Linked DNA regions of Homo sapiens. The protein of the gene in region 1 interacts with the protein of each later gene in a pairwise test. Each region holds a gene or a part of one and is shown on either strand. Other genes may lie near its edges. The genes, in order: NOD1, GLE1 and SOX8.

Region 1 (3,642 bases):
ATGCCATTCCCGATGCCCTCCGAGCCTGGCCCGCCCGGCCCACCTGTTGCTCCCCTTGCCTGGCAGCCTCACCTGAGAACAGTGAGGCGGCTGAAGCAGGGCTGCAGCTCCCGCACGCCGTAGTCGTTGAGATTGTTGTTGTCTAGGTCTAGGGCCAGCCGCTTGGGGAAGTGATGCAGGACGAAGGAGAGGGCGCTGCAGTCGGCCGAGCAGGCGTTGCAGTAGGTCAGCTTGAGGTAGTTGGCGCAGATGCCCCTGGCCGCCAGCTGCCCCACCTTCTGGCTCTGTGTCTCGTAGATGCAGCGCAGCATCCAGATGAACGTGGGCATGGCCTGCACCTGGTTGAAGCTTTCGACCTGAACGCGGGGCAGGCTCTTCAGGTAGCCCCGCAGGCTGGAAAACAGGTGTGCCCACAGGGCCTTGCGCTTTCTCCTCAGGGCTGCCGCGGGCACCAGATGCCGCAGGAGTTTCTGTTTGGCTTTGGACAACAGCCCGCACAGGAAGAGGTTGGTGAACTGGAAGTGATCCTTGTTCTTGAAGAGGTCTTCCCGCGCCGGACCACTGCCCTGCAGGCACTGGAACGGGAGGAAGGGAGGATAGCAGGACGTGGTCGCTGCCCCCGCAGGGGGCATCCACTCCTGGAAGAACCTGAGCAGCTCCTGAGTGCCCACCCTGTCGTCCAGCACGAGGAAGAAGGCTGTAAAGAAGGCCTGGAGGGTGAGGTGGAAAAACTCATAGGACTGCTGGTCACCCCCGGGGCCCAGCTCCGGCAAAGCCCGCAGGAAGCCCAGCTGCATGTCTCTCTCCTGCAGCCCGGAGGCCTGCACCTCCTCCTGGGTGAAGACAAAGAGGCTCTTCTCCATGCCCCGGTGGGCCACCTGCCCCAGCGAGCACAGAGTGTCCCGGCCGGCGTGGAGGGTCTCCACTGGGCTGCGTGTGTTCCGCTGCACCAGGCTGCTGGGCTGCATCCTGTTCAGATGGACCTCAGTGACCAGGAGGAAGACATCTGTCAGGGTCATCGTGCAGTCGGGCAGCTGTGGTGAGCCTTCAAAGGCAGCACGGAAGTGCTGGAAGCACCGGAAGATGATCCAGCAGAAGAGGGGCACAGAGCACAGGCTGCAGAGGTTGGGGTTGGCCTCCAGCTGGCTCAGCAGGCGGTCCTGCAGGGCCCGCTCGGGGAACATCCTCCTGGCATAGGCGCGCAGGTGGCTGGGGGAGAAGCCCCGGAGAAGCACCTTCTTCCGCAGGAACTGGCGCGGGACCTCGATGCCTGTGCGGGCTGTGAGCAGCTTGCTAGCCCCCTTGAGCAGCTTCCCACTGAGCAGGTTGGCCAGCAAGACCAGGGGGTGGGCAGGCTCCCAGGGGCAGGAGCTGTCAGGCACGCGGCTCAGGTCCAAGTCCGAGTGCAGCTCGTCCAGGCCATCGAAGGTGAAGAGGGCCACGTGGGGGAAGCGCAGCAGGAAGGCAAACACCTCCTCGGGGTCCCGCTCTGGGTAGCAGTAGTGCTTGAAGAGCAGGTCCTGCAGACACAGCCTGTCACTTTCCTTGAAGCAGCTGAACATGCGGCAGCGAAAGTGGAAGAAGAATTTGACCCCTGCGTCTAGCCGGCCCGTGGCCCAGAGGCTCTGCAGCCGCTGTAGCAGCATGGACTTGCCCACCCCAGCATCACCCAGGATGAAGATGGTCTCACCCTGCTCATTGAGGATGCCGGTGGTGTGGTCCAGGAGGCAGGCCAGGCTGTTCAGGCTGCCCAGGCTCTCATTGCTGAAGCCAACCAGCTCCATGATGGTGTCCATGTAGATCTCCTCCAGCAGCAGCTCCTCCTTCTGGGCATAGCACAGCACGAACTTGGAGTCACGGCCCAGATGGTGTCGCAGCTGCTGGGTATACCTGCTCACTGGAGGGAGGGGGTGGCAGGGCACAGCAGCAGGGTGAGGAGAGAGGCAGAAACAGCATCAAACAGGGAGGTCTCAAAGAGGAGAGGCGAGTGCATAAACAAAATTCACAACCTGGGCCCTGAGGCCAGCGCAGCCACTCCTCAGATGCAGGACCTGGGGAGCGTCACAGAGCCAGCATTCCTGACCCTGAGGGCCCCAGGCTTTGATCTCTCTGCTTGACCTCAGATTTGCCAGAAAGAAGGTGACAAACTTCAGCTGGGATCAGTGTCTGAGACAGGCCACCCTTATTCCTCCGCACAGTGTCATCACTGAACTGCAGCTAAACACTGAAGCCCCTCGCACTCGAGGGCCAGGCCAGATGGCCACGCTGGCCCTCCTCCACCAACACTGCTTTTTTGTTGTTAGAGATAGGGTCCTGCTCTGTCACTCAGGCTAGGGTGCAGTGACCCAATCATGCAGTCTCAAACTCCCAGGCTCAAGCAATCCTCCCACCTCAGCCTCCCAAGTAGCTGGGACACAGGCATATGCCACCAAGCCCAACTAATTTTTGTGTTTTTTTGTAGAGACGGGGTCTCGCCATGTTGCCCAGGCTGGTCTCAAATTCCTGGGTTCAAGCGATCTGCCCACCTCGGCCTCCCAAAGTGTTAGGGAGTGTTATATATTTGTCAGTAATTTTTAGTAAGTTTACAAAGTTGTGCAAACCTCACCACAGTCCAGGTCTAGAACATCTCTACCATCTTCCCAGAGTTTTCTGGAGCCTATTTGTAGCCAATCCCTGGGCCGTAGGCAACTACTGATTTGCTTTGTCTATAGATTTACCTTTTCTGGACATTTCATATAAACAGAATCATACAATATGTAGTCTTTTGTGTGAGACTGCTTGTAGAGTGAATTACACTGTAAAAGCTAGTAAAGTAGCTGGCTAACGGAACCAACAGAGAAGTCTTTCGAAAGAATGATTCCTCATGGGAATACTTTCTTTTTTTTTCATGGGGGAAGGAAACAAGGGGAGACAGGAAGGAGCAGACAGAGTCAGAAGCTAGCAGTGGCTGGCAGGCACCTGCAGGGGCTGTGGAAGCTGGAGCCTAGCACTGACACTCTGCCGGCTGGCCTTGTTTCCCCTAAGCACACACCTGTCTTGTGCTTCTGTTTCCAACAACATATTGGATTCTTTAAAAGGCAGGACTTAGGTCCTTGGTGCTGGTATGTTACCAACAGCTGTCTCAAAGTGGAGAGTTCAAAAGCAGGGAAAGAAGACTCCTGCCCCAGAGCAGATCCTGGCCCTAATGATATGTTCTCACATGCCTTGGACTGCCGCTGTCCTGACACATTTTTGAGATTGCTGACTGGTGGTCTCTTCCAGCTGACTTGAAGCTCCCTGAGGGCAGGAACCCTGTCTGTGTCTGCTCACCACTGTCTCCCTGACATCCAGCACAGTGTAGGGTCTTGGCATGTGGTGGATACAGCAAAAAATACTTATTGAACTAATCAGTTAACTGATGGGGTCTTCCATTAGTTTGGAAATAAGGACTGGCACTCAACGGTGACAGAATACTTTGCCTAGAATCAAACCTGGCAAGGCTTTTTAATTTTTTTCTTTCCTTTTTTAGAGACAGGGTCTCACTCTGTCACCCAGGCTGGAGTGTAGGGGCACAATCATAGCTCGCTGCAGCCTTAGACTCTGGGGCTCAAGCAGTCCTCTTGCCTCAGCCTCCTGAGTAGCTGGAACTACAGGTGTGTGCTA
Region 2 (3,642 bases), on another chromosome or scaffold:
CTGGGATTACAGGCACACACCACCATGCCCAGCTAATTTTTGTAATTTTAGTGGAGACAGGGTTTTGCCATGTTGGCCAGGCTGGTAAGACGTGAGCCACCGCGCCTGGCCAAAAAAATTTGTTTTAGACATGGGGGTCTCACTATGTTGCCCAGGCTGGTCTTGAACTCCTGGACTTAAACAATCCTCCCACCTCAGCCTCCCAAAGTGTTGGGACTGCAGGCATGAGCCACTAAGCACGGCCTATTGTGTCTTTCAAAGATTTTAATACACTTTCACATCTCTTGCTAGATAAAATAGGGTCAGTTATTAGTACATAATTCCAAAAAAGGAAATGACAGAAAAAGAAGTAATATTCCCAAGGTGTAGGTCAAGAAGACCAAAAGGAATAAATGCATACCGCTCTATACCTGGACTTGTATACTATCATGATTTACATAGCTCAAGGCAGAGGAAATTGATCATATTGAACCAATATATCAGCAATGGGTTTTTCAAAAAACCAAGCTTTATTATTAATTTTTTTTGGCACCTTAATTAACAATTCATAGAATGGGTCACTTCAGGCCACTCAAGAGTACCAGTGAACACTCCCCCACAAACACACCCTGCCACAAGACATTTAGCACAGAGGAACAGATCCATGGCCACTGCCTCTGCAGTATCAAAGAGAATTAGTCTTTCCACAAAACAAATTTTAACAGCCAATCTCTGGATTTCTGTAGTGGCTTTAGTCAGGCATATTTATCATCATATTAGCAGTGTTCAGTTCCTGCCCAACATCTTTATTTAATCCCAATTCAATGCTTATGGATGCTCAGCTCATGTTTAATGTTGCAAGCCCCATCTTAGCCCATCTTAATTCAAACAGAAAAGAAACAAAACAAAACAAAAACAAAAAAGGTACCTGCCTGGTTCATGGATCCCTAGCCATCCAGGGACCAAATTCCAAATTAGGATGACAAAGAGTTTCCCTTAGTTCAAAATGACATGTGTTTCCAGTCCTAATCCCAGATGTTAATCTAGCCATAGTGTCACCTGAGCCTTAGTCCATGTGTATATCACATACTTCCTCTAGCTTTAGAATGACTTCACAAGCTGAGAAAGGCAAAACAACCATAACCCAGACTTGCATGTAAGTATCTGGCCTCAACTATTAAATAATACTTAAAAGGGAACCTTATGAGCCTTAGCTCTTTCTGGAAATTCATCTGAACAGGGGTGAGGGTGGGTAGGTGGGTGCAAATGGTGGGCTCCCTCCAGCTCAGAGTGCATTTGTTAAGGTATTGCCAACTTTCTGAAAGACACTAGAGACAAGGGAGGAGACCAAGTGCTAAAGACCTTTTATCACTTTTGCAAAAAACAAGAAAGGCCAACTCCATTTATTTTATCACGTGGATCTCTTAAGGAACTACCAAATCTACTAAGGGACCTCCAAGAATTTTGTGACCCATGAAAATCTCCTCTCCTAGTCACAAGGCATAAATACATAAAAATACATAATGGCAAATTTCTGAATCTGACATGACTTCTCCCAAATACAGCTGTCTTCAGTTCCTTTATTATTGCCTCTTTGCAGCAGCGGTGATGGTGGGTGATGGAGTGACATCAGGAGCGCCAGAAGGAGGAAGTCAGAAAGCCCTTGGGGACAGGAATGTCCTTGTGTTGCAAACATTTCTGGTCAGGGAAAGATGAAGAAAACAGAATGAGTTTCTGATAACAGTGTTCCCAACACTTAATGGTTAAAAGAAGCTTTGAGGAACACCATATTTCAGCCCTATGGAACAGTGAACAAAAAGGAAAAAGCCAGTAAGACTGATGGTTCTGTATAAGATGTCCACTTCTGCATGATCTGCTCCAGACAACAAATGAAATGCTCTTATTATTCCTGTCCCACTCTTGTCTCCCTACAGGCTAACCTCATCTTTCACAATCACTATTTTCACAATCGAGCTTTGAGAAGCTGAAAAGTCAGCAGGCTATCTTGGCAAACCCACTATAGTGTTCTAAATTCTTTGTCAAAATTAACCTTTTACAATCTCTTGGCACTTGGAAGTAGGGGAAGAGTCCAACTGAAAGTGCAGTTTGATCTCATGGAGAAAAGTGATGACACTTACCAATTCCCCAGACCTGAGACTAAGAAAATAACCTTGGCCAACATGCAAAAAAAATATATATTAATGAGAGGAGATACACTAAATATATTTTACTCATCTCAGCATAGCTTTCTCACAGGCAGTATAGAGAATGATACATATAAAGAAGAGGAAATGGCAGCCCTTACTCCAAAGGTTAAGAGGGAATTAGGAACAAAAAGAAGGGTTTGGAAGAACTAAGGAAGAGAGTGCAATCAGAGCATCGGAAGGTCCAAGACTTGTCAGACATAGGTGCATTCCAGCCCAACAACAGTGTGGGGCATGTTGGTCTAAGGGCATCTTACCTCCAAGAACTGCTTGAGGCGTATGAAGGAGCCCATCTGTCCTGAGCTTGTGATAGCTTCAATTCTACAGGGAGAGAAAGACACATGAATCACACCTATGATATACACCTATCTTTTGGAAACGGTGTCTCACTCTGTCACCTAGGCTGGAGTGCAGCGCGGTGGTGCGATCATAGCTCACCGAGGCCTTGAACTCTTGGGCTCAAGCGATCCTCCTGTCTCAGCTTCCCTAGTAGCTGGGACTATAGATGCATGCCATCATGCCTGGCTAATTTTTTTTTTGTAGAGATGGGGTCTTGCTATATTGCCCAGGCTGGTTTTGAACACCTGGGCTCAAGTGATCCTCCTCCTGTGGCCTCCCAAAGAGCTGCAATTATAGGCATAATTATAGGCATAAGCCACTGTGCTCAGCCCCTAATTTGTGTTTTTGTTTGGGCAATGATATTTAAGACAGACTCTCATTAAGGTTCAAAAGCATTTATTCAAATATCAACGAGAGGGACTGGAGTAGGAAAGATGTCATACTTAGTACAGGTGTTTTTAACTTGAATCAAAACCAGCAGGTAATAGCACCCTTGGGTATCTGAGGCCTGGTTATGAGTTACTTAATCCCCTGCTGTCTGCTCAACAAGCCTGATACCTGGGAAAGTAGTCCTCTTTGATGAGAATTAGCATCTTCCAGAACTGAACCTGGTATTGCTTCATGAGGGCATTCCCACACACCTAGAGGGAAAGACAGGCACTGTCAGAGCAGAAAATGAAAATTCACACTCACAGGACAGATTCATAAAGCACAATCAGCCCTTCATCTTTCACACCTATCAAAAATTTCAACCACAATGCCACTGAACTTGCTAACAAGGGAATAAATGGAAACACCCAACTTTCTTCTAAAGCATTTCTCTTTATATGGCAATATCTCCATTTAACCAATCAGGTCTTAATGAACTACTCTTCTTTTCCTCTAATGAATGGACGCCTTCCTAAAGGTATGGTATACCTCCCAAACTTAGTAAGGAGAGTATACAGAATACCACTTGTGTTCTCAAATGATACAGGATCATTGTTCATGTATGGTGACTTCAGGAGCTTTTTATTTTTTTTTGAAATAGGGTCTCACTCTGTCGCCCAGGCTAGAGGACACTGGCATGATCACAGCTCACTGTAGCCTCAACCTCCCTGGGCTCAGGTGATCCTCCAAC
Region 3 (4,390 bases), on another chromosome or scaffold:
TTTTTGTTTCTTTACATTTCCCAGAAATTCCAGCAAAGTCAGACCTAGACCTCACTCCTCGGCCGAGAAAATTCCATGAAGCGCTGTGCTATGAGAAGACCCGAGGCCCCTCCCAGAGACCAAGGTGGGGGGAAGAAGCCGACAGGCCCAGCCTGGCCAGAGCTGGGGTTTACAGGGCGCTGGGGGACCACACAGACCCTGTTCCTCCCCGGGCCAGCCAAGCACTCTGAGGCTGGCGGGCGTCAGCCAGCCTGACCGAGGCCCCGGCAGGACTCCACCCTGTCAGTCTGGCCCTGAAGCTGGGGCTGCTGAGTGCCGTGTGGGCAGCAGCTCGGTGTGGGAAGAGGAGCCCGCATTGGACTGAGTCTTGCTGAAAACACCACCTCTCGGGGTCCCTGCCAAGCAAAGCTGTCAGCCCCTCAGCACTCAAGGTGGCTAAGCAGGTCCCTCGTGCACCAAAAACAGGGGCGGCCGGGGCCTTGGGAGCTTTTTCAGGGAACCCGGGGAAGGCCCGGTTCTCTCGAGGGCGCCTGCCCCCCTCCACCATCATGCACCCTTCTCAGCCAGAAACCCCACAGCTGCCTCCCATACAGGGACCCTCAGATATGCGGGGGGCCTGGAGCCCACCTGTGTGGTCGCCATGGTGGTGCCCATCTCCAAGCCCTGCTTCAGCCTTGTACACGGCACCGCCGCCAGGGTGGGGTCCCAGCTCCGCGCCCGAGTCGGAGTCGCTGTGGCCGGCTTTGGCGCTCTTCCTGCGCCGTGGCTGGTACTTGTAGTCGGGGTGGTCCTTCTTGTGCTGCACGCGAAGGCGCTCTGCCTCCTCCACGAAGGGCCGCTTCTCGCTCTCGCTCAGCAAGCTGCAGCACAGGGCAGAGGCAGGGATGGCCAGGGCGCCCACTGTGCCCTCGGCGCAGGCACACACCACAGGGGGAACCGGCAGCAGAGGCCGGGGCCAGGAGGCTCTGACCAGGGAAACCCGCCTGCCGTGCGCTCCGGAGCCTCCCGTGGCACCAGGCAGTACACTCCTCTGGGAGAACCGGCCGGCGCCTGTTTGGGAAGGTTGGTATGCTTACGACAGCCAAAGAAGAACAAGCCCCACGCCTCCCATCTTCCTCCTTCTATTTCCCCCTATTCCGGGCCTGCTGTTCCCTCCCTCTGGGGCTTTCTAAGGGAGGCGGGGGAGGCGGGCAGGACCCAGCCGGCGGTGGACAAAAGCGAGGCTTCCCGGGAACGGTGCCGGCCTTCGGCGGGCAGCTGGGCTGCTGTCCCTCCATTCCCAGACACCCAGAAGCCCTGGCAGGGCCCAGGCGCCCGTCCTCACTGAGCCACAGGACACACTCCTTGGGACTCTTCCCGAGGCTCACCTCCAACCGCCTGTGCGGCAGGACTTGGGGGAGCAGGGGCCTGCCGTCCACAGCGCCCCGTGGCTGCGCCCTAGATCCAGACAGAAGGCAGGAGGTGCAAATACGCAAGCTCCAAGCTCCCTTCTTCCAGGTGAGGAGCAGGATACGGGAACCAGAGCCCCAAACCAAGAGAACCATTTGAAACCCAACCAGAGGACACTCGGTGGGGGCGGCCTGTCCTGAGCAACAAGTTCTTCACTCTGCAGTCCTAATTTCTGGAAAACTGACCGGCCCCACCACGCCAAGGCGTGCACACGGCGCACCCCGTCATCTCCACTCCTGCCCTCCCTGCTTCGGACCGAGGGTGTCCAGGAGAGGGAGAAACTGCGGGGAGGGTACTCGCAGGCAAACCTGCTGCCCACCCATCCGCCTGCCGCACTCCCTCCCCATGGGTGGTCCAGGAGCTAGAGGAGCTGAGCCCTTTCTAAGGAGGGAGCACCTCCAGAGAGCCGCATGCAACTTGCTGTCGTGCCGGGCGTGCCTCCCGGGGCTGGGGCCACTCGCAACGGCTGGAGGGCACGTCGGGGTGCCAGCCATGGCCCTCCGCAGGGTGTTCCCCGCCAGGAGAACTGGCTCCAGAGCGCACCCGCCACGAGGGTGCACACCCCAGGCGCTGCCCTCCGCGGATCCCGACTCCCATAGCTGGCGCCGGACCCCGGCTGGCCAGAGGATGTTTTTCCACTGGGACCCGCCCTGACACCCGCCCGGGGTGCAGAGCCCGGAGCCTGCGTGTGGCCACCACCTCCGCGAGCTCTGCGCCCTCCAGGCCCCCGCTCGCAGTCCGAGACCAGGGGCGGCCAAGGTCCCGAACCCCGCCCCCGGGGCGCCGGCACTCACCGCCACAGCTTGCCCAGCGTCTTGCTGAGCTCGGCGTTGTGCAGGTGCGGGTACTGGTCGGCCAGCTTGCGGCGCGCCGCCTGCGCCCACACCATGAATGCGTTCATGGGCCGCTTCACATGCGGCTTGGCTTTGAGCGCGCCGCCGCCGCCGCCGCGCACCGGCATGGGCACCAGACTCCAGTCGTAGCCCTTGAGCACCTGCGACACGGCGTCGCGGATGCAGGCCGGGAAGCGCTCGTCCGCCGCCTCCGCCGGGTCGCCCCGGGCGCCCCCCACCGCGACCCCCGCGCGGCCCAGGCCCTCGGAGCCGGCGGGAGACGGCGGCGCGTCCGAGTCCGAGTCCTCCACGTGCGACATGGAGCTGGCGGTGCCGGACGGGCTGCAGGGCGGCTGGGAGCGGGCCTCGCTCATGTCCAGCATCGGGGCCGCGCGCGGAGGGGCGCGCACAGGAGACGCGCACCGGGGCCGGCGCCCGGGGCTGCCCTGCGGTCGCTCCGGGACCCGAGGTCGCCGCGCGGTGGCCCCGACCCTCGCCCCTGCCGCCGCCGCCGCCGCCGCCGAGGCTCGGGTCCCGCTGCGGGACCCGCAACAAGTTTCTTTAAGCGGCGGCCCCGCGGCCCCGCCCCGCGCCCGGCTACCCATTGGCGGAGCGCGCCCCGATCCCCCGGAGGCGGAGCCCGGCCGCCCCCGCCCCCCCACCCATAAAGAAAGCTCCGCGGCTCTCGCCGCGCCCCCGCCTGCCCCGCCCGGCGCCGCACCACGTGGGCCAGGCGCCCCACGCCTGGAGCTCCCCTCTCTGGAGCCCCGGGAAAGGAAGCGGGGCAGGGAGGCCGGGTGGGAGCAGGGGGGTCTCCGGCGCTTCCTCTCCTCTGCGGGCGCCGCGCGGCTCCTGAGAGTCCGCCCCCCGTCCTGACGCTCAGCTAGGAAGCGGGTCCTCGGGCCCCTCCCCCGACACACACACACACACACACACACACACACACACACACACACACTCTCTCTCTCTCTCTCTCTCTCTCTCTCTCTCTCTCTCTCTCTCACACACACACACACACACACAGCCCGTCTCGCGCCTGAGGTCTCGCCCGCAGGCCGGTGGCGCGGGGTCAGCTGCTGCCTGCGGTCCAGGACAGGGTCGGTTCCGCCGCGCAGCGCCCAGGCCCAGCTCGTCCAGAGTCTGCGGACAGCGCACGTCCAGGTAACGCGCTTCAAGGGGCCGCGGCTCGGAGCTGGGGGACCCCGGGCCGCCCTGCCCATACGAGTGCGAGCGTGGAGAGCGCGGGCGGGGGCGCGGTCCCGGGGGCCGGCCAGCTGGAGGGGGCGGGAGCGCTGGGCGGGGCCTGCGCTGACCCCGGCGCTGAGTCCCTGGGGCCGCCGGGCGGATGGCGTGGCCGGACGCGGGGGCCCCGGGCCTTCCGGGCGTGACCTAGGGCTCGGGGGCGGGGAGGCCCCTCCGGCGGGGCGGCCCTGGGTGGTCCGGCAGAGGCGGAGGCCGCTCCGAGCCTGTGAGCCCTGGGCGCCTGCGGAGGCGGGGAGAGGGCGGGGTGTGCCGCCCTGGTGGGGACCGCGGGGTCGGAGAGGGGACATTGCCCCCCCCGAGGCGAACGTCCAACCGCGGGTCCGGGTCCCCGCCCAAGGCCGCCCCGCGAGGTGGCCTCGGCCCGGCCGTCCCCGAGGGTGGCTCGGATCCTTTCAACCAGCGCGCTGGAGGCGAAGGGGCTGCGCCATTCCGGGTCAGGCAGCCAACGCGGGACACGCGCGTCTCCGAGCTTGCGGCCCGCGAAACCCGGGTGACCTACCGCGCCGGTGCCCTCAAAGCCCCCACGCCCGGGCCGGTGGCCGCTGCAGCCACTGAGCCACGCGGTCTCCCCGGCCCGGTCGGCAGAAGGAGCTGGTCCGTTACTAGAAAAGTCCAGATGCAAAGTCGGGGGTCGTGCTGCCGCTTCCTGCCAGCGCACCGCACCCACCTGGGGCCGCCACCGACCGCACAGGACGCGCCTCCTACCCCCTGTTCTGGCCCGGCCGAGAGCTGGTGCCCCCAGCGGCCGCCCGCCCCCGTCCGCAGACCCCGGGGCCCTTGCTGCTTTGCATTGGGAACAACCGGAGCCAGGCCCGGAGCTGAGGGGGCCAGGGCCTTTGGAGGAA

Evidence for each region.
Region 2: the proteins of NOD1 (region 1) and GLE1 interact in binary tests that used the Homo sapiens proteins (3 or more experiments, as listed by UniProt).
Region 3: the proteins of NOD1 (region 1) and SOX8 interact in a two-hybrid assay, tested with the Homo sapiens proteins (one large-scale study listed by BioGRID and IntAct).

What each region holds. Positions count from the first base shown.
Region 1 is NC_000007.14:30,451,144-30,454,785, forward strand, and holds part of NOD1 (nucleotide-binding oligomerization domain-containing protein 1), read right to left. Parts: intron 1,898-3,642; coding exon 73-1,897; intron 1-72. UniProt on the Homo sapiens protein: Pattern recognition receptor (PRR) that detects bacterial peptidoglycan fragments and other danger signals and thus participates in both innate and adaptive immune responses.
Region 2 is NC_000009.12:128,539,137-128,542,778, reverse strand, and holds the end of GLE1 (mRNA export factor GLE1), read right to left. Parts: intron 3,164-3,642; coding exon 3,081-3,163; coding exon of another isoform or gene 3,065-3,080; exon of another isoform or gene 2,902-3,064; intron 2,505-2,901; coding exon 2,441-2,504; intron 1,678-2,440; coding exon 1,609-1,677; 3' UTR 491-1,608; downstream 1-490. UniProt on the Homo sapiens protein: Required for the export of mRNAs containing poly(A) tails from the nucleus into the cytoplasm. May be involved in the terminal step of the mRNA transport through the nuclear pore complex (NPC).
Region 3 is NC_000016.10:980,198-984,587, reverse strand, and holds the start of SOX8 (transcription factor SOX-8), read right to left. Parts: upstream 2,819-4,390; 5' UTR 2,666-2,818; coding exon 2,244-2,665; intron 861-2,243; coding exon 628-860; intron 1-627. UniProt on the Homo sapiens protein: Transcription factor that may play a role in central nervous system, limb and facial development. May be involved in male sex determination. Binds the consensus motif 5'-[AT][AT]CAA[AT]G-3'.